Linked DNA regions of Homo sapiens. The protein of the gene in region 3 interacts with the protein of the main gene of each other region in a pairwise test. Each region holds a gene or a part of one and is shown on either strand. Other genes may lie near its edges.

Evidence for each region. Proteins that work in one complex are often made in the same cells at the same time.
Region 1: the proteins of DCDC2 (region 3) and TOLLIP interact in binary tests that used the Homo sapiens proteins (3 or more experiments, as listed by UniProt).
Region 2: the proteins of DCDC2 (region 3) and KRTAP5-9 interact in binary tests that used the Homo sapiens proteins (3 or more experiments, as listed by UniProt).

The regions. Positions count from the first base shown.
Region 1 is NC_000011.10:1,299,629-1,306,652, reverse strand, and holds part of TOLLIP (toll-interacting protein), read left to right. Parts: intron 1-3,862; exon of another isoform or gene 3,863-4,069; intron 4,070-6,640; exon of another isoform or gene 6,641-6,775; intron 6,776-7,024. UniProt on the Homo sapiens protein: Component of the signaling pathway of IL-1 and Toll-like receptors. Inhibits cell activation by microbial products. Recruits IRAK1 to the IL-1 receptor complex. Inhibits IRAK1 phosphorylation and kinase activity.
Region 2 is NC_000011.10:71,543,454-71,550,112, forward strand, and holds KRTAP5-9 (keratin-associated protein 5-9), read left to right. Parts: upstream 1-4,966; 5' UTR 4,967-5,204; coding exon 5,205-5,714; 3' UTR 5,715-6,155; downstream 6,156-6,659.
Region 3 is NC_000006.12:24,355,056-24,362,287, reverse strand, and holds the start of DCDC2 (doublecortin domain-containing protein 2), read left to right. Parts: upstream 1-4,228; 5' UTR 4,229-4,537; coding exon 4,538-4,830; exon of another isoform or gene 4,831-5,385; intron 5,386-7,232. UniProt on the Homo sapiens protein: Protein that plays a role in the inhibition of canonical Wnt signaling pathway. May be involved in neuronal migration during development of the cerebral neocortex. Involved in the control of ciliogenesis and ciliary length.

The sequences.
Region 1 (7,024 bases), on a different chromosome or scaffold from region 3:
ACCCCAGCCCCTCTGAATTAACCCATAGTGGGCCTTTACCCAGTTACTAGCACCTAGAGGAGCCCTGCTTTTGCAGGATGTCTTGACACAGTATTTATCATGTCCTCTTTCTGTTACACCTGTGGTGCCAGAGAGGCAGGAGGTTAAGCAGGGCGCTCGCTCAGCTTTCCAGCAGAAAGAGATGCTCCCCAGGGTCCGGGGGCAGGACTCTGGCTCGGGAGACCCTGACTGTGGTCTAGCCGTTGCCTCCCCCTAGTGATAAGGGGAGACGGCAAGATCCCATGGGCCGTGAAGGAGCAGAGGGGCCGCTAATGGGGTCCTGGGAGGGTTCTTTTGTCCTTGGGTAGAGGGAGCTTCAGGGGCCCGGGTGGGTAGGTGTGGAGAGGACGTGTGAAGCTAGCCAGCCCGACATCGTTCTGAGAGAATCATACCGTGTTTAGATCTTCAGGATAATGGTTCCCTGAATAGCCACTAAGGGATGCTTCAGCCCTGTGCAGTGCTTCCCTCACGTTTCAAAAAGGCCAGTATTTTGGAAAGATAACCTTTTTTCAATATAGTCTGCATATTATCAGAAAGCATGGGTGAGTACCTGCAAGGAGTACCATGTGGACCCCTGCGAGGGGTACCGTGGGGGCCCCTGCGAGGGGTACTGTGTGGACCCCTGTGAGGAGTATCATGGGGGCCCCTGCGAGGGGTACCGTGCGGGCCCCCGCGAGGAGTATCGAGGAGTACCGTGTGGACCCCTGCCTTCTGCAGTGAGATCTCGGGACGTTTGCGGGAGACTCCGCTGCAGCCACCGCGGTGCCGTCAGAGAGGCCTCCTTGGTAGAGGTGGGTGCGCTGTGCCGTGTCCAGGCTGCTCTGACTCCTTGTCCTGCTTCTGGAGGTGCTGGTTGGCCATGGAGTCCAGCTGGAGGCGGCCTGGCCCCTCCCTTCCTCCCTGAGAGGCCTGTTCCTGTCCAGGTCCCCTCACTCTTCACATCGTTGATAATTCCTGCCGAATCGGTGACTTCATTAGGGATGGCAGAGGGTAGTTTCTGAACTTTATCACTTCTTCGGTGTTTATTAACTGGGATTGTTTGTAAAGATTAGCTTTCCCCATCAACCGGTGTCGGCTGGCTGTCCTGAAACACAATTCGTGAAAGAAAGGCAAGTGAGATGCTTTTCCCTCATCTTCCCGTACCTCAAGGAGAGAGTTGCTTTTCTTTGTAGATGTGTGTGGGCTTTCTCTCCCCTGAGTGTTGTGAAGAGCCCGTGGATTTTCCTGCATCCTGTGTGTCTGAGCCAGTGGCACTTACCCGTCTCCGCTGGCTCTGGTGGGCTGCTCCTGGGAGGGCGTCCGTTCCTGCTGACTGCACCTGAGCCAGCGGGGAACGCACTCACCGCCTCCTCACGAGTCCTTTCTCTCTGGGTTCCTGTGAACCTTTGCGCTGGATTTTTTAGGCCGGGTTGTGAGTCTGTACAGGTGTGGAATTGCTGTGCTTGCCTGGAAATCACATCTTTTCACTGTGTGGGGACCCACGGGCCTCTTGGAAGATAAAGGCCTCTTGCCTTTGATTATTTTGTCTGATACTGGCATGGCCACCCCAGCTGTCTTTTAGAGAGTATTCACCTAGTACTTTTTCCTTCTATGATTTTACATTTTTCTGAAAACTTTTGTTTAAGACACGTGCACCATCGATAGCACGTAGCTGGATTTTTAAAAAGTCAAATCTAAGAAGACTAAGTCTTTTGATGGGAATGCGCTAGTTTCATCTTTCTAGTTAAGAGATGCCTAGATGGATACACAGATTTACAGATTTTTTACATGTTTTCTTTGGTGCTTTTATTTGTCCTACATTTTCTTATTTTTTTTCTCTCATTGCCTTTTGAATTTATTAAATGGAGTTTTAAAAAATTCAGTTGTTTTATCTCAAGTACATACACACTGTGCTGGGAAAGTACAGGGGCTCCCCTGGAAATGGTAACATGCACTTATCAGCTTCTGCCATGAGGGAGTCTCTGAGTGAACTCTGGCTCCGGAGGCTGCCCGGCTAAAGAATAAATAAAGAAGAAGTTAATCATTGTCTGTGCCACCTCCGGATCCACGCGGAGACCTCGGCCGCCCCGTCCTGGCGCGGGTGCTGCTGTGCCTTGTGTGGGTGCTACCTCCCCTTGGGGCTCCCGCAGGAATGTGTTACTTCTCTCGAGTCAGCGCTTGTTTAGATTTCCTTCTGTGTTTCTCTTTTCTTATCCCTTCTGGTGTCTCGGGCCTTCCATTTGGGGTCACTTTCCTTTAGCTTCAGGTTCATCTAGAATTTTCCTTGCTGGCAAACTTGATTTTTGCTTGTACATGCCTTTTCTCTGTGTCCTGACAGCTATTTTTGTGTGTGTGGAACTCCAGGTGGGCGGTACTCCAGGTGGACAGTACTCCCGGTGGACGGTCACTTGTCCTCAGTGCCTCGAAGGTGGGACCCCGCCCTCTCCTGGCTCCTGGAGTGGCTGCTGAGCAGCCCGGGAGTGGATGTCCCTTCCTCCGGCTTTCCTTCGTTTTTGGCCCTCTGTTTGCTGCCTTCTGAATACGCTGCTTCTGGCCTGCCTCCCAGTTCACTTGAGGTCTTTTTTTTTTTTTTTTTTTTTACATGGAGGCTCGCTCTGTAGCCCAGGCTGGAGTGCAGTGGCACAATCTCAACTCACTGCAACCTCTTCCTCCCAGGTTCAAGCGATTTTCCTGCCTCAGACTCCCGAGTAGCTGGGATTACAGGCGTCCACCACCACGCCCAGCTAATTTTTGTATTTTTAGTAGAGATGGGGTTTCACCATGTTGGCCAGGCTGTTCTCGAACTCCTGGTCTCAAGTGATCCGCCCACCTCAGCCTCCCAAAGTTTTGGGATTACAGGCGTGAGCCACTGCACCCGGCCCTAACCTCTGTTCATCTGGGCCTCTAACACTGTCCCTTGACCTGCCCGACAGGCCCCTGGTTAGGCCTGCTGTGCAAGTGTTTCCTGTCCCTGAGTCACTGTCTCCAGATCCTGCGGGCCCTGCCCTGGCACCGTGCTGGTGAGGCCTGCCTTGCTGCCCTGTGGGAAGTGCAGCGTGCCCCTGCCACCCGGCCTTGCCCTGTTTCTTTGCACAGCGCCTCCTGCCGTTAGCATACAGCATAACTCATGATGCTTCCCGTTTGTCTTCTTCCACTCACGTGTAAGCATCCCAGGAGCAGGGGTGCCCCAGCACCTCACCATGGAAGCCTCAGGCACACAGTGACACGCAGAGGCTGCCGCAGCGCGCGCCCTGTGCCCGGCGCCCAGGGCCTGCCACGTCACATGCCGTCCCTCTCTGGATCTCTGTCCGCCCTTGGCCTGCTGCTTGACTGGCTTTTGTTTCATCTGAATGAGAAGGGGTTTTCCGCCTCTGCCTTGCTTGACCGTCCCAGCACTTAGGATGCAAGGCTGCCTGCAGTGGAGTTCCTGGCAGAGACCCCATTTAAAGTCGCTTGTTCTGTAGTCAGCTTTTATAATCTATGCTTATTCTCATTCTGTCCTGTACTCTTCCCTTTCACCGCTCTTCAGCTTACACGGGTTCGTTTCAATACTGTCATCTCCCAGCTTCCCTTACACAAATTCTAGTGTTTGCTTTGAGACTTTAGCAGAGCCAGGGAACCTCCCGGCATGTTGGCTTTGAAGCGCCTGTTGTGTTTTGTATAATTAAAGGAAGAGGGGAGGGGGTGATAGGAAGAGGGAAGGAAAGCCCTGTCTGAGGAAGGCCCCGGAAGGGGAGACAAGGCACGGCGAATGAGTGCTCAGCGAGGGCTCCTGGGAGGGGGCTGCTGAGCGGCCGTGGGAGGAGGATGTGGGAACTGGGGACAAAGTCACCACTGCCCGTCCACACTGGCGTGGGAGCTGCCTTGCCAAGAGCAGTTGCATGAAATGCCACTTATTTGCTCAAGGGTTGTTTATTGAACATGCCAGTGCCAGGAGACTGGCGTGGAGCATGAGGCCGAGGCTGGCTGGAGTGGGTTTTGGGGAGTGTCAGGAGGCTGGTGTGGAGCGTGAGGCCGAGGCTGGCTGGAGTGCCAGGGGCTGCAGGGTCAGGTACTGGTCCAGCTTTTGGATGCTGGTGCTGTGAAGGGTGGTGGGTGAGGGAGCCAGCAGCTGAGTGGGCATGGGGAATTGCAGTTTTCCTTCTAGCCTTATTTTGGAAAATGCTAAACTTACAGGGCAATGGCAGTGGCCACCAGTGAGTGTCGGTGAGTCCTTCACCTCCACGGGGCTCCCCTCTTGGCCGTGAGTGTGCAGGCCTGGGGCATGTGCAGGCTGGCACTTCAGTCTCTGAAACCCTGCGCACTGAGGGGTCAGTCAGCTGGGCAGAGGGACCGCCAGGGCCACCCAGGGTCTGTCCTGACTGCCCACGGCCCTGTGTCTCAGCCCTGGTGCGCGTTCCCGCCCTCTTGCACGCCCGGATCTGGATGTGAATCACACAGGTGTGCGGGCATCGGGTGGATGGGCCATTTCTCCTGGGCCAGACTGAGCTCTGACCTGGGTGTGAACCTAGCAGCAGACATCCCCTGTAGGACAGTGGCCTGGAGCAGGCCCCTTGCAGGGCCTTCAAGGCAGGGCCAGCCCCTCAGACACAGCAGGGAGGCTGGTGATGACCTGGGCTCCAGGTTCTCAGCTTCATCTGGACCAACTGTGCTGTTCTATGTGAGTCCTGGGGCCCTGACCGAGTCTGGGGCTCCCTTCCTAGCAGACACTCAGACCTCGCCCAAGAGGCTTTGAGACTGACTTCCGCCCATATCCCTAGATGTTCCTACTACGGGGGATTTATTTCTCTCTGTTTCATTAGCTTCCTCTGTCCCTTTAGCCACGAGCCCAGCCCAGGTCTTCCTGCTGTGGGTCCCAGCTCTGAAAGTCACGTTGAATCATGGCCATGTTAGGAACTGGAGAAACCTAGGGCTCAGGGTACAGAGTTTCACTAGTTGGGCTTCTGTGTTGGGGCCTCCGTGGGCTGGCTTTGTGGCTTCAGGAGTCCTTGACGCTTGTTCTCAATGTGGGGGTGATATTGACCCTGAGAGGGCACAAGGGGTTCTTGGGGGAGGAAACTTCTGGGGTTTGGCGGCCGTGTGTGCCTCCCCAGCACAGCTCCTGGATTTCTTGCTCCTTAGTATTTCATTGTCCCTGGGTTTTCTGGGTGTCCCAGCACATGGATACGGAGTTCTCGGAAGCCCGCGACACATGTGCGATCTCAGACCTGCTGTGAGGTGGGTGGGGAGGGTGGGCAGGCGCCTGCGGATGCCGTTTGTGTGGGATCCTCAGTGCTGGTGTGAGACTCTGGCTTGGAGAATTGAATGAGAATCGTCGACATTTTGTGATTTAATTCCACAGAACGTATTTAGCCCATCGCTAATGATGTCAGTTTGCTGAAAGAATACCAGCCAGCCAGTTAAAAGGTACTTTCTCACATCAAGCAAAAGCTTCAGTTCACTAAGGATATTTTTTATTGTGTTTATATAAGTTGTTTATTTCTACGTGTGATTTGATACATTACAATTTATGTAAATAAATTACACTCAGCGCTGCTCAGCGCATAGTCATGAAGTGCTAGAAGCATTTTAGTTTTTAATTGAACTTCGTTCGACTTAGTTATGCTAACCTGGCGTTAGCGCTGAGACTCGTTGAGCCTTGCTTGCAGTGTTTACATGCCAAGTGCAGGTGCATGCGTGGCACACAGACACAAACAGCACCTCCACAGCCTCGCAGCGTCATGGGGTGGGAACGGTGAGAAGGTTTAAAAAGGCTCCGCAGGGGGCCAGTCATGGAAGTGGCCAGGAAACCCTGGTCTCCTGCCGCCTGCGTGTGGCCAGCCGTGCTTCAGGGGCGACTGTGGTGCGGCTCCTTGGGGTGATGTCTCCTGGCAGGCGTGAGGCCAGGACTGCATGTGTTCAGGACTCCACGTCCTGGGCTGAGCTGGGCTCTTCCGGGGCTCTGTCAAGGCAGAAAGTGTGGCCCAAGGAAGCAGCGGCACTCTCAGTCGGAAACGTATTCCTAACAGGTGTCGGGCAGAAAGTGTGGCCCAAGGAAGCAGCGGCTCTCTCCGTTGGAGACGTGTCACCAACAGGAATATTCACAGTGGGTGTTTAATTTGTGTGCTTAAAAAGAAAAATTAGCTTTGGATTGACTACACACATTGCATGACAAAAAAGAAGAATTAAGACTTTATTTCTGTGCCAAAACTAAAACTTAGACTTGAAGAGAAATTGTTTTAAATAGAAGTGAATGTTGGAGACCTCTTTTCTTTCGTGTGGAAAGGTACGCTGCAGTGGTTTAGAGCTCTGGCGTCAGTGAGGGAGGAATGGTCGTCAGTCACAGGCTTGCGTCGTGATCCTCTGAGAGCGGCACATGGGGGAGGAGAATCAGCAATTCCAAGAAATTTGAAGTTACATTTTAAAACTATATTTAAAACAGACTAATATTTATAAAAGTAGCTTTTATTTTCAGAGAAGATAAAATGCTGTGAGCTCTGTGGGATGAGAGCCCTACCCTGTCCTTTTTATTTTAAAAGTAATTCACGAATGTTTTTAAAAAGTTTCTAAAAATAACTAGCAGGATATAAAAGTATAAATAAATTGAAATAGAATCTTCCCTGCCTGTTTCCCTCGAGTTCCATTCCTGAATGCTCCTCCAGAGTTGGTGTCGACAGAGGCCTCCTTATGGCTCCCTGCAGCAGGTCGTGCCGCACCTCCGCCTCCGCCTCCGTCCCCCGAGTCTCCATGTGTTCGCGGCAGGGACCGCCGGCTCCTGGTGAGGCCGCGTGGCGATGCGCTGGGTGGATGTGCCTGGCTGGTGGACGGGGCGTTTTGACGGCACAGGTGACGCAGCCTCAGGCATCCTGTGCTCACGTGCCCGAGTGAGCATTGACAGGGGACTGGCTCCTGAAGTGGAATTGTTGGCCTTCACACGGGCATTTAGACTTGTTAGTGTTGAACTCAGTATGTGCATCTTGTACATGGAAGCAAAATTCTAGAAAAATATCCATTATGTATCGGGAGT
Region 2 (6,659 bases), on a different chromosome or scaffold from region 3:
AATAGAGAAAGAGTCATTCACACAGAGCTGGCTGTGCCTGAGACCGGAGTTTTATTATTACTCAGATCAGTCTCCCTGAGCATTTGGGGAGCAGAGTTTTTAAGGGCAACTTGGTGGGTGGGGAGAAGCCAGTGATCCAGGAGTGCTGATTGGTCAGGGATGAAATCACAAGGAGTCGAAGCCATCTTCTTGCACTGAGTCAGTTCCTGGGTGGGGGCCACAAGATCAGATGAGCCAGTTTATTGATCTGGGTGGTGCTACCTGATCCATCAAGTGCAGGGAGGGTCAGAATCTTGTAAATGACCTCTGGCTACATGACTCCTAAACTGTAATTTCTAATCTTGTGGCTAATGTTAGTCTAGTCCCCAGGCAAGAAGGTGGTCTGCTTTGGGAAAGGGTTGTTACTGTCTTTGTTTAAACTATAAACTACCAACTAAATTTCTCCCAAAGTTAGTTCAGCCAACACCCAGGAATGAACAAGGACAGCTTGGAGATTAGAAGCAAGGTGGAGTGGGCTAAGTTAGATCTCTCACTGTCTCAGTCATAACTTTGCAAAGGCGGTTTCAAGCCCAGCTGCCAACCAGAGGAACTCACTCAACACGTGAGCAGCAGGCAGAAGCAAGAGCCTTCCCCTGAGAAATAGGAAGGAAATCCTAGCCTCGCCCCCGCAACCACTGACTGAACGGGACCCCTCTTGGCCAAGGGGGTGTCGACAAAAAGTGTCAAACTCTGTAAAATATTTTAAAAGATTCTGAGCCGAACATGACTGACAAATGGCCCGTGACACAGCCCTCAGGAGGTCCTGAGAGCAGGTGCCCAAGAGGTTTGGGGTGCAGCTTGGTTTTATATATTTTAGGGAGACATGAGACTTTAATCAAATACATTTAAGAAATACTAAGGCCTAAACTCTGTTGTTGTTTTTTTTAATCTTGCTCAAATTCCTATCTAAGGGGTCTGCGCATGCCCTACAAATCATAAACTCTCAACAGACAGGTTTTGTTTAGCCCTAAATATTGTGACTTACTTTCCAACCCGACTCTGGCATAACATTATGAGACAAGGAAGAAAATCAAAATACTTTACCCCAAAACATGTTTCTTTGCTGTATTTTGAAATGGCCCTGCAGAGCGTCCTTTGTGGGGGAAAATTTGGATCTGCAAAGAATCTCTATTAACATAGCTAGATCTTTTTCTTCCAGACCCTCCCAGTCCTAAAGAGATTAACTAAGGTCTGAATAGGAAACATTTGTCATCTATTGTCTCTAAGGGCAGCCACTATCAGACTTCAAAAGAACTTTGGTCTCCACAATCTTTATCTTAACTTGAACTTTCCCTTCCTATCCATCCCAGGTCTTTAGACAAACTCAACCAACCGTGAACCAGAAAATGTTTAAATTTACCTATAGCCTGGAACCCCCTCACCCCCCATCCCCCACCACCCGCTTTGAGTTGTCCCGCCTTTCTGGACCAAACCAATGTAATTTTGAAATGTATTTGATTGATGTCTCCTGCCTCCCTAAAATGTGTAAAACCAAGCTGTACCATGACCACCTTGGGCCCATGTTCTCAGGACCTCCTGAGGGTTGTGTCTCAGGCCATGGTCACTCATATTGGGCCCAGAATAAATCTCTCTTCAAATATTTTACAGAGTTTGACTCTTTTTGTCGACATTACATTGGTTTGGTCCAGAAAAGTGGGACAACTTGAAGGGTGGGGAGTGCTTCCAGGCTATAGGTAGATGTAAAAATTTTCCGGTTGACAGTTGGTTGAGCTTGTCTAAAGACCTGGGATCAACAGAAAGGAATGTCTGGGTTAGGATAAAGGATCATGGAGACCCAGGTTGTTATTTGCAGAGGAAGCCTTTAGGTAGCAGGCTTCAGAGAGAAGAGGTTGTGAGACGTTTGTTATCGGACTTAAAGTCTGTGTGGATGTTAATGCCAGAGAGGTAGAATGAGGCATGTCTGACCCCCACTGCCCATCATAGTGTCTCAGGTTAAATTTTAAAACAGCCCTGGCTGAGGAGGAAGTCCATTCAGATGGTCGGGGAGGAGGTCTTAGAATGTTATGTTTGGTTAACCGGGAAACCTTGGAAGCTGAGTTCCTGGCTACGGGGGGATGGGAAGCTGGACTTGCGCCCTTCTCCTACTCCCTGGCCAGCCATGACCCAGCTCCCTCCCCTCAGGGAAAACAGAAACCAATTCTGTGGAGACTGCACTGAGGAGATCAGTGTACCCCTGACATTGCCCCCTCCTTCTTGATAGGAGATCCACCACGGAGAGGCCCTGGCCATTCTACGGAAGAGGCGCAAGGAAGTCTTCTGAGTCCGCTGCTTCACCTTTTGACATCAGAGGGCCAAAAGCTCCACCCTCAGATCAGGCTAACACCTCTGGTTTTTGCACATAGAGAGGGGGTGAAGCTGGATTGCGCATATGCCTGGTTTTGGGTCTGCAGTTGGTTCCTGCTGGTGGGTTCGTGGTCTCGCTGACTTCAAGAATGCACCCATGGACTTTCACGGACCTTCGCAGTGAGTGTTACAGCTCTTAAAGATGGCACAGACCCAAAGAGTCAGTGGCAGCAAGGTTTATTGTTTATTCGCGAAAGGACAAAGCTTCCACAGCGTGGAAGTAGACCCGAGTGGGTTGCCGCTGCTGGCTGTGTGGCCAGCTTTTATTCCCCTATTGGCCCCGCCCATGTTCCGTTTCTGTCCTATCAGAGTGCCTTTTTTTCAATCCTCCCTGCGATTGGCTACTTTCAGAATCCTGTGCAGATTGGTGTGTTTTACAATCCTCTTGCAAGACAGGAAAGTTCCTGATTGGTGCATTTTACAATCCTCTTGTAAGACAGAAAAGTTCCCCAAGTCCCCACGGGACCCAAGAAGTCCAGCTGGCCTCATGTCTCAGTTTCTCCTCTTATCAATATTCATGTCCCTCCCACAGCTTATTGAATATGCATATTCAGCCACCCCCACTCAGTGTAGATCTCTGCTTTATTCTTCCCTCCCTCCAAGTGTCTGTTTCCAGCTTCCTACCAGAGGCTGCGCCTCCCAACCAGTCAGAACAGCCACACTCAGCCCGCAGCACTTTATGAGAAGTAAAGCGCTCCTTTCCAAATTGACGACCTCGTCCTTCTTCAGTTAACACCTCCCTCTCTCAATGACGATGATGGAGCATGTCCAGGTGTTGGTGACACAGCTACATGGCTGCGTGTGGGATAAAGTCGCTGCCCCTTCAGAACTCACACCCCCCTGGAGTGGGACACACACCTCTAAGAACAAACAAGGATGAGAGCAGAGCCAGCTTGGCATCGTGGGAATCAATAAATGAAACAGAAAGTGCAAGGTGGTGGGGGTAGCTATCTCGGGACGGGGTGTCAGAGGTGGATCTGAGTTGGGCAGACAGGAGGGACGCAGTCCAGGGCGGTCCTGGGTGAGTCTGTTCCATGTAAGGAACTGCCAGCACACAGGTCGTAAGGAGGAGTGCGGTGTGGCCCCGGCACCAATCCAGGGCTGGATGAAGAATGATTGAGGCAGTCTGAAGATGACACCAAGTCATTCTCCTCCCACGGAGAGGTGGACTTTCTCTTCTCTCTGCAATCTGGGCTGGCCTCAGTGACTTGAGGAGGGAGAAATACTCTAGGATTCCTAGGCTGGGTCATAAGGCACCTTCTAGCCTCTGCTCGAGTGACCTCCTAGGAAGTACAGCTGCCCTGAGCCCACCATGCTGTGAGGAAGCCCAAGCCAGCCGTGGGAAGAGGCCGTGAGGTGGGGGAGGGGAGGGAGATCTGTCCGGCCTCACCTGTTGTAGCCATCCCATAGGTGTGTGAACACAGCATCTTGGACAAGCCAGCCCCAGCTGACATAATTTACAGAAAAACCAAGGAACCCTGCAGACAGCCGGAACTGAGGTCCCAAAATACAGCCCAGCCAAGCCATGCTGCCATCGTTAGCCATTGGTACCTTCCCAATTGAGACCCCACAAATCATGCGGCCTGTGCCACCATCCAGTGCCGGATCTGAACTACTGATCCACTGAGCTTTGGGCTGATTGGTTCTGCAACGATGGGTGGCCAAGGCCACGGTCAAATCCAGCTGGAGAGGTGGATGGGGCCAGTGTCAGGGGTTTGGATTTCACCCCAAGTCAGCTGAGGCACACTGGAATGTCGTAAGCCTGCACATCCACTCATCACACATTTTAACCGCATCTGAGTGTGGACCGTACCGATGGGTTCCTGCACCTGCAGCCTCCACACCATTGCTGGTGCCCTGCCTCCTAGCTGGAGTATCCTTCCTGTCTCTTGGCTGCTCTTTGTACCCATCATGGTCCCCCTACCACCCTCCAAGTTCTGCTCCAAGCTTTGTTTTCCTCCAAGAGAAGAACCTGTCCAGACAATAGTTTCAAAGCAGCGGGAAGCTCTGCTCACGTGTCCCCAAGGACCATGCTGTGTGAAATTCCCTTCTGTAATCACAGAGCCCATTGCCCTGGCCTATTCCTGGTCCAGGAATAGGGAGGAGGTAGACAGAGGATGCCTCCTTCCCCACTGCTGAGAACCCTGCCATCCTCAGCCACAGTTGCCACAGAGAAGATACCACATCCCTGGGGGAATCAGCAGGAATCAGGTAGAGAGTGGCACTGCTCTGGGGAGGGAGGGCGTCTCACAGCATCAAACGTCAAAAACCCACAACATTGACCCAGTCCTGCCAAGACGGAACCCTGCATGAGCATGGGGGATGGGGAGTTGGGGTGTTGCAAAAGACGCAATACATGAATGATCTCAGGTAATTCTCAGGCAACCCCCGGAGGCTGGTGTTGCTAGCACCCCTCTGCAGGAGAAGAAGCTGGGGCTCGGGAGCTGACTGGATCTGCTCAAAGGCCCAGGAAGAATAAGAGTTAGGAACTGGGACAGACCTTGAGGAAGCTGCACTTCCTCCTGAGGTGAGCCAGCGTTGGAGCTGTTTTTCCTTTCAGTATGAATTCCACAAGGAAATCATCTCAGGAGGAAGGGCTCATACTTGGATCCAGAAAATATCAACATAGCCAAAGAAAAACAATCAAGACATACCTCCAGGAGCTGTGTAACAGCAACCGGAAAGAGAAACAATGGTGTGTTCCTATGTGGGATATAAAGAGCCGGGGCTCAGGGGGCTCCACACCTGCACCTCCTTCTCACCTGCTCCTCTACCTGCTCCACCCTCAATCCACCAGAACCATGGGCTGCTGTGGCTGCTCCGGAGGCTGTGGCTCCAGCTGTGGAGGCTGTGACTCCAGCTGTGGGAGCTGTGGCTCTGGCTGCAGGGGCTGTGGCCCCAGCTGCTGTGCACCCGTCTACTGCTGCAAGCCCGTGTGCTGCTGTGTTCCAGCCTGTTCCTGCTCTAGCTGTGGCAAGCGGGGCTGTGGCTCCTGTGGGGGCTCCAAGGGAGGCTGTGGTTCTTGTGGCTGCTCCCAGTGCAGTTGCTGCAAGCCCTGCTGTTGCTCTTCAGGCTGTGGGTCATCCTGCTGCCAGTGCAGCTGCTGCAAGCCCTACTGCTCCCAGTGCAGCTGCTGTAAGCCCTGTTGCTCCTCCTCGGGTCGTGGGTCATCCTGCTGCCAATCCAGCTGCTGCAAGCCCTGCTGCTCATCCTCAGGCTGTGGGTCATCCTGCTGCCAGTCCAGCTGCTGCAAGCCCTGCTGCTCCCAGTCCAGATGCTGTGTCCCTGTGTGCTACCAGTGCAAGATCTGAGGCTCTAGTGGGAAACCTCAGGTAGCTCCTGAAGATCTGTGCTTTCCAACAAGTGACTACCCTTGAAGCACATCCCCTTCTGGATCTGAAAAGAGCCCTTGGCTCAGGGCGTCTTTTTCCAGCCCCTGAGGAAATGGAATGAACCACTCCCTGCCCATTCCCTATAAGAATATCCCAAGACCCAGGCAATTTTGCCCCTCTTTCCCACATGCCCCCATATGTCTGAGCCAAACTGCACTGGGGGCTGCCCTCATGCCAAGCAAGAGCCTGGAATTCCCCTTCTTGATAATTCCATGGGAGACAGCAAACCCTTCTTTCCTTTGCCTGCCAGGAGCTTCACGACATTTGCAGATGGATGTCCTGCAACCCAAATGATCACATGTATCTATGGAAATCCAAAATGCATCTGGGTGCAGCACTAAATAAATTCTCCATCCCTCAGCCTTGGTCTCACTGACTCTTTTCTTCCAGCCTCTGTCTCATTGGCAAACTGGCCACATGTCCTTCCCCTCCTCCCTGATAGCTTATTGCTCCCACTGCTGTAACAGTGTGCCAGGCCCAGCTCCCATTCCAGAAACAGTTGTTGAACTGATTAATGAAGGAACCACTAGCAGTATGTATGAATGAATGAAGACGAGGAATGAATGAGTGAATGAGTGAGTATCTCTCATTAGTACACAGGGAGTCCCAGCTGTATCTCAGTGGGATTCAGTCTGTCTTGGTTGGAATTTGGACTCCTACTTCTTCCCCATGGGAGGATATGTTTGGGAGAGAAGGAGAACTTTGCCCTCAGTGCCTAGGAAGGGATGTAATGGGTGCTCTCTGGGTCCAGCCAGTCCCCAGTTTGTGGGTCAAGCCAGGAGATGGGGAAGCGAGACTAGAATGAGCTGTGTCCCTGAGATGCTCTGTAGGACAACACTGGAAACTGTGCTGCTTCAAGGATCC
Region 3 (7,232 bases):
TATAAACATACAATTAAATAAAAAATAATTGTATAAATATACAATTAAATAAAAATTGTATAAATATGCAATTAAATAAAAAATAATTGTATAAATATACAATTAAATAAATTACATTGAAAACAAAGATAATAAATACTCAAAACTCATCTCCATCTACATTTTACTACTATCTGTGCTCTTAAAGTTACACAAGTCTGCTGTGCCTGCATGGTGGAAATACCATACAATGACTTGCTACTGCACATTTCATGGCTTCAGTGATGTTAGACTGGCATCTGGAAATTGGCCATATTTGGAGTAAACTACAGAGATTGGCAAATGCTATGAATTAAGGCCTTCTCTTCCCTCCTAAAAGCCAGCAGTTAAACACTTATCACCACATCATATCCAAGAGACATCTGGATAAATGAATCTAAGCTCAGGAGACACATCCGGGTTGGAGATACCGCAGTGGGAGGCATAGACTTGATGCGGGCAGCTTCATGGGCTGGCGTCAGGGTCCCCACATCAAGAAGGACCCCATGATTGGTTTAATGCTCTGCTGTTGCTAACATAAAATTCTTAATTTTTGAATAAGAGGCCACATTTTCATTTTACACTGGGCTAATATAGATGATAGGGAATTTTAGGTTGTTTGGGGAGGGGGCTACTTAATTGATTGCCTTCCATTTCCACATAACAAGTATTCTGTCTTACTCACCTATGTGGTAGCACATTTTCACAGGTATTTTCCCCATCCATCCCTCAACCTGTGCATTCTCCACAAGCAGCTCACAAAATTTCCCTTGTCTATTTCCTCCCTGTATTGTTCTCTTTGGCCTTCTTTTGAAATTTGTTAACTTTTTTTTTTTTTAACTTTCATTTTAGGTTCAGGGGTACATGTGCAGATTTGTTATATAGGTAACTCGTGTCACGGAGGTTTGTTGTACAGATTATTTCATCACCCAGGTACTAAGCCTGATACTCAACAGTTATTTTTTCTGCTCCTCTCCCTCCTCCCACGCTCCACCCTCAAGTAGGCCCCAGTATCTGTTGTTCCCTTCTTTGTGTCCGTGAGTTCTCCTCATTTAACTCCTACTTATATGTGAGAACATGCGGGTATTTGGTTTTTTGTTCCTGCGTTTGAAAACTGTTAACTTTCAAAGCATTAATGTATTACATGGCTTTAATAAAAATATTTCTTCAGAACAGAAATCTCGAAGGAAAAAAAAAGTTTCTCTCCAGATTGCAATGTCCCACACATTCATCTTTCACAGTGATATGACTGGTTATGGAGCTTGTGGAATAAGACAGAACTGGGTTTGAACTCTCTCTCTCTCTTTCGTTTTCTAATCCTTAGAATGGGTTTGAATTCCTGTGTGTGTGACCTGAGGTAAATGTCTTTGATTTCTCTACCCTTCAGTTTCCTCATCTGAGGAAAGAATAATATTTACCTCTGAAGGTTATTGTGAATATTAGATAATCTACATAAAGTGCCTTACATAATGCCTGGTCCATGGTTATAGTGTTCAATTAATGGCAGTTCTTTTTATTCGTACATGATGAGTTAGGAACACCCAGTAATTTGGACATGACACATGGTAGAAAAGTCTTAGGAGGAATGAAGGAAACACTGGCAGAGATGAGCTGCAAAATTTCAACTCTTTAAACATTTTCCTGGTGCCACAATATGTATGTCCCAGACTGGACTGGACAAAGCGACTCTTTACTGGGGCTGTTACTATTCTCACAACTCCTCTCCCTGTTATTCCTCAGACAGAGCTAACAATCTACACAAATAGCACAGATGTGGGCTCTTGGACAGCCAGTCAGACATTTAGCCTTCTTGCGGCAGTGAAAAAATCCTTTCCCTGGCGTAAAGCTTGGCACAGGGTAGGCACTCAAAATTTTGTAGGTTTTCCTTTTCACCGCCGTGGCCCCAACTAGCACAGGGCCTTGCACACAGCAGGCGTCCATTTACTGAATGAGCGCATGATGAATGAGCGCATGATCATGTCACCTGTTTCTCCCTCTTCCTCCAAACCCCTGTTCTTCCGCCTCTGCCCCACGCAGCCAGCATATCCCAAGGAGCCAGGCGCAAGCCAGGCCTGGTTCACTGACTCGCTCCCCGCGCGAGGCTGCGGTTGCTATGGAAACAGCGGGAAATAACAACTCCGTTCCCCTTGGGTGAGAGAGGCCCGCAGAGGTAACAGCAGCTGGAGGAACAGCGTGAGCGGCGCGCAGCCGCCGCAGAGTTCACCACTGTGCCACCCGAGCCGCACCGCCCCGCCCCCGCGCGGCCGGCGCCCGAGCTCCCCTCCCCTCTCCAGCACGCGAGTGTCGGTAGGTACTACGGCGGAGGGCACCTCCTGGGCCCGCCTCCCCAACCAGGGCCCCGCTTGCGCGCTGCCTGCTGTCTTCACGTGATGCGCACCCGAGCTTCGCCGCCAGGCGGCGCTGATCATCGGGGAGGGGGTTAGGGGTCCTAGACACGCGAGTCTTCGCTCTGTTTCTCATTCATTCATTCATTCACTTAAATGTTATTTTTCCCTTCCTTCCTTCCCTCCCTCCTTCCGGGATGGGGTCTTGCTGTGCTGCTCAGGTTGGTCTCAAACTCCCGGGCTCAAGTGAGCCTCCTGCCTCAGTTTCCCAAAGTGCTGGGGTTACAGGCATGAGTCACGGTACCCGGATTCTCTCTTTCTCTCTCTGAATATATATAATATATATAAAATATATATATAAAAATATATAATATATATAAAATATATAAAAAATATATATAAAATATATATAATATATAAAATATATATAATATATTATATATAAAATATATATTATATAGTATATATAAATATATATACTATATAGTATATATAAATATATATAATATATAATATATAAAATATATATAATATATAATATATAAAATATATATAATATATAATATACATAAAATATATATAATATATAATATATATAAAAATATAAAATATATAATATATATAAAAAATATAAAATATATAATATATATAAAATATAAAATATATATTATATATAATATATAAAATATATAAAATATATAAAATATATAATATATAAAATATATATAATATATAAAATATATAAAATATATATAAAATATATAAAATATATAAAATATATAATATATATAAAATATATAATATATATAATATATAATATATAAAATATATAATATATAAAAATATATGATATATAATATATATGATATATAAAATATATAATATATATAAAATATAAAATATAAAATATATAATATATAAAATATATAATATATAATATATAATGTATAAAATATATAATATATAATATATAATATATAATATATAAAATATATAATATATAATATATATAATATATAATATATTATATATATAAATATATATAATACATATATATTATATATATTATATATAATATATAAATATATATATAAATATAATATATATATTTATATATAATATATAAAATATATATTTTATATATTATATATAAAAATATATAATATATAAATAAATAAATAAAATATATATAAAATAAAATATATAAAATATATATATAAAAAAAATATATATTTTATTTTCTAAGACAGGGTCTTGCTGTGTCGCCCAGGCTGGAGTGCAGTGGCAAAATCATAGGTTACTGCAGCCTCGACCTCCTGGGCTCAAACAATCCTCCCGCCTCAGCCTCCGAGATAGCTGGGTCCACAGGCGAATACCCTGCCCACCTACTTTTTTTTTTTTTTTTTTTTTTTAATTGTAGAGACCGGGTCAGGCTGGTCTCAAACTCCTTGCCTCAGGGGATCACAGGCGCGTTATAGAGACGGGGGCTTTCCCTGTGTTTCCCAGGCTGGTCTAGAACTCCTGGTCTTAGGCAGCCCTCCCGCCTGGGCCCCTCAAAGTACTGGAATTTGCAGGCGTAAGCCACCGCATCTGGCTTTGCACATTTATCTTCCAGCAAAGAAAAACCTGGGCAACTACATCCAGGAACTTAATTGCTTTAATTTGGGAGCAAGCAGGAGATTGAGGGGTAAAGGTGCAAGAAGAGAGAAAAGAAAAATTAGGCTGTTTGGAAAGGGTAGCACAGATATGATGTAAGAAATTGGGTTTCACCATATTTGTGTGTGTGTGTGTGTGTGCGTCCTCCTCTCTCCTGCCCTCACTAGGCGTGCCTGTTTGAAGGCCCCGCGCGTTTCCGGCTCCTGCTCAGAAGCTGTCCACCTTGATTCTGCCCGTAGCAGGTGAACCTGGTGTGGTGCGCGCACTGCGGGTCCTGATTGGCTGTGCACGCCACGGTGAAAAACTTGAGCGTCTACTCCGAGTCCTGCAAGCTCCTAGTGTCTCCTCTGGGTGGACGCCTAGGCGCACGGCCGTTACTTCTCTTTCACCTGTGGATTCGTCAGTTTCTCGTTCGTTTCAGGAGGCGATCCCGCGCCCTGGGTGCGGTGAGGCCGCTGGGACAGCGGAGGTGCCTCCCGACGCGAAGCAGCGAGCTGAGGCGGCGGCCAGCGGGGAAGATGAGCGGCAGCAGCGCCAGGTCCAGCCACCTGTCTCAGCCCGTCGTGAAGAGCGTGCTTGTGTACCGCAACGGGGACCCCTTCTACGCGGGGCGCCGCGTCGTCATCCATGAGAAGAAGGTGTCCAGCTTCGAAGTCTTCCTGAAGGAGGTGACCGGCGGCGTTCAGGCACCCTTTGGGGCCGTCAGGAACATCTACACCCCGCGGACTGGCCACCGAATCCGGAAGCTAGACCAGATCCAGAGCGGGGGCAATTACGTGGCTGGAGGCCAGGAAGCCTTCAAGAAACTCAAGTGAGTCGGTCTCCCCCACCGCCCACCCATTTAGGTGCCCTATAGTGTGGGGTTGATATGAAGAAATGCAGATCCCTACCCCCCCACACCTCAGTGGTTGAGGGGCTGTGACTTCTCGGTGTGATTGATGCCCCTCAAAACTCTCGTTGCAGTTGGGGGGTAGAGGTTGACACTGTGACTGGAGAAGGAATTTCACTTGGGTCAGCAGTAGGAGTAAACTTAAAATCTGTGTATAAACAACAGGAATCTTAAAGAAAATAAAAAGGTATCCTTGCAAAGGTTAGTGACCAAACTGATACTTTTGCGTTTTCTGTTCAGTTTTTTCTTTCCTTTTCCTTATTTTTTTTCCTTGGAAATCCATCCTTTTAATTTAAATAAACATTCTTAAAAATCACTTCCAAGTGTTGGACACTATATTGTCACCAGAGGAGAAAATTGCTCTGCATTTCCCGTACTGTTTAAATTATTTCAACCTTTCATTCCAAGTAGAATTGACAACACTCACTTTTGTGACCCTGCTCCCACCCCCTGCATGTTTATGCTGTTAGCATAATGCAGGAAGAGTTTACTGGCTGACTGTATTTGTCGACTGTCTGTCTCCAGCAACGTGATTAGACCTTCAAGGGCAGGGGTCCTTATTCCCAGCTCTTGAGCTCACTCATAGTGAGTGTTCAGTGAATTAAGAAACCGTCAGTTCAGGGAACAAAGATGAGCAAGGCATGATTCCTTGTCTTTAGGAGCTTTCAGTCTAACTGGACTACCTGCACACTAACAATTTTAATGCAAGCTACAAAGGGATATGTGCATAGAAAAATAAAGTTATGTGGGAATTGTGAGTTGAGAGTTGGTTGGGGTGGTCATTATAGGACAGGTAGAATTTTACATTCCATTTTTTTTTTACAGCTTTATTGAGATAGATTTCTCATGGCATGAAGTCCAACCATTTCATTGGCTTTCAGTGTATTCAGAGTTGTGCAACCATCACCACCAACTAATTGTAGTTCATTTCCACCCCTCCCGCCAAAACATTTGTACCTCCCAGTTTCCTCTGTCCCCTGTCATCTGGAAACCACTAATCTATTTTCTGAATCTATGGATTTGTCTATTCTGGACATATCATATAAATGGAATCATACGGTATATGGTCTTTATGTCTGGCTTATTTCACTTACTGTAACATTTTCAAGGTTCATCCATGTTGTATCATACATCAATACTTCATTCTTTTTATTGTTGAATAACATTCCATGATTTGGGTATATTACCTTTTATATCCATGCTTATCCATTTATCAGTTTGATGTATATTTGGGTTGTTTCACATTTTAACTATTATGAATAATGCATCTATGAATATTTGTGTACAAGTTTTCATTTCTCTTTGGTGTATACCTAAGAGTGAAATTGCTGGATCACATGGTAACTCTGTATTCCATAGTTTAATAGAACATTTTAATTGAAATTCATCTTGGGCCCCAGGATAGAAAAAAGCCTTGACCATAAATCTAAGCTTATGAATTCATAAGCATTATTGGATTCTTAATAATTAAAATTCAAATAAAGTCTTATAACTACATAGAAATATTTTTCAAAATATCACTAAAATTCTTGAATGTAATCCTTCTTCTCCTATATTTGTTTAAATTGAGTTCTAGGTATTCTATTATACTTTTTGTTACGTCAGACATTCTTTTCATGGAAAGTGAGGGATATATTTGGATTTATTTTTCCCTCCCCTGAAGCTTCTTAAGCATGCTTTGTTAAACTTCGTAAAAAAGGGCTAAATGAAATTGCATGCTTAAAGGAAACTTAAAACCAGGAGACTGAAGACTGAGTTGCTCATCAGCTCTGTGTCCTTGGGCAAGTCGCTTGACTCAGCTAATCAGTTTCTTAATACAGAAAAGGTGCATAATCATTTGTACCACACAGGGCTGTGATAAAAAGTAAATGCTATAGATGTGTGTTTTGTAAACACCAAAGTGTTACATAAATATAAGACACCTCTATGACCAGTTCCTTTTGTTACATACTTTATTTTTTATTAAATATTTCCGTCTAAAGCAATTTCGTGGAAATGAAAGTCTGGTTCAGAATCTCTGAACGGCTGAAAATTGTAGACTCACTTTTATAGTTCATGTTCTTTTGTTTATTTGATCCTACCAACTCACAAGATTAAAAAAAAAAGGTACAGTTCCACACCAAATAAAAAAGTGTACTCAAGTCTCTCTAAGAGATTTGCATGTTATTTTTGCTTTCAGTTCATACACAAAAAACTGAATTTGTTATAACAGTGTCCATGGTTAGGTTTCCATGCTGACAGATGACTATTTTATTTGTGTTAAAGAAGTAGTATCTACGGTTATAATGATAGAAGCCAAGAATACTTGAATGTTGAATATATTT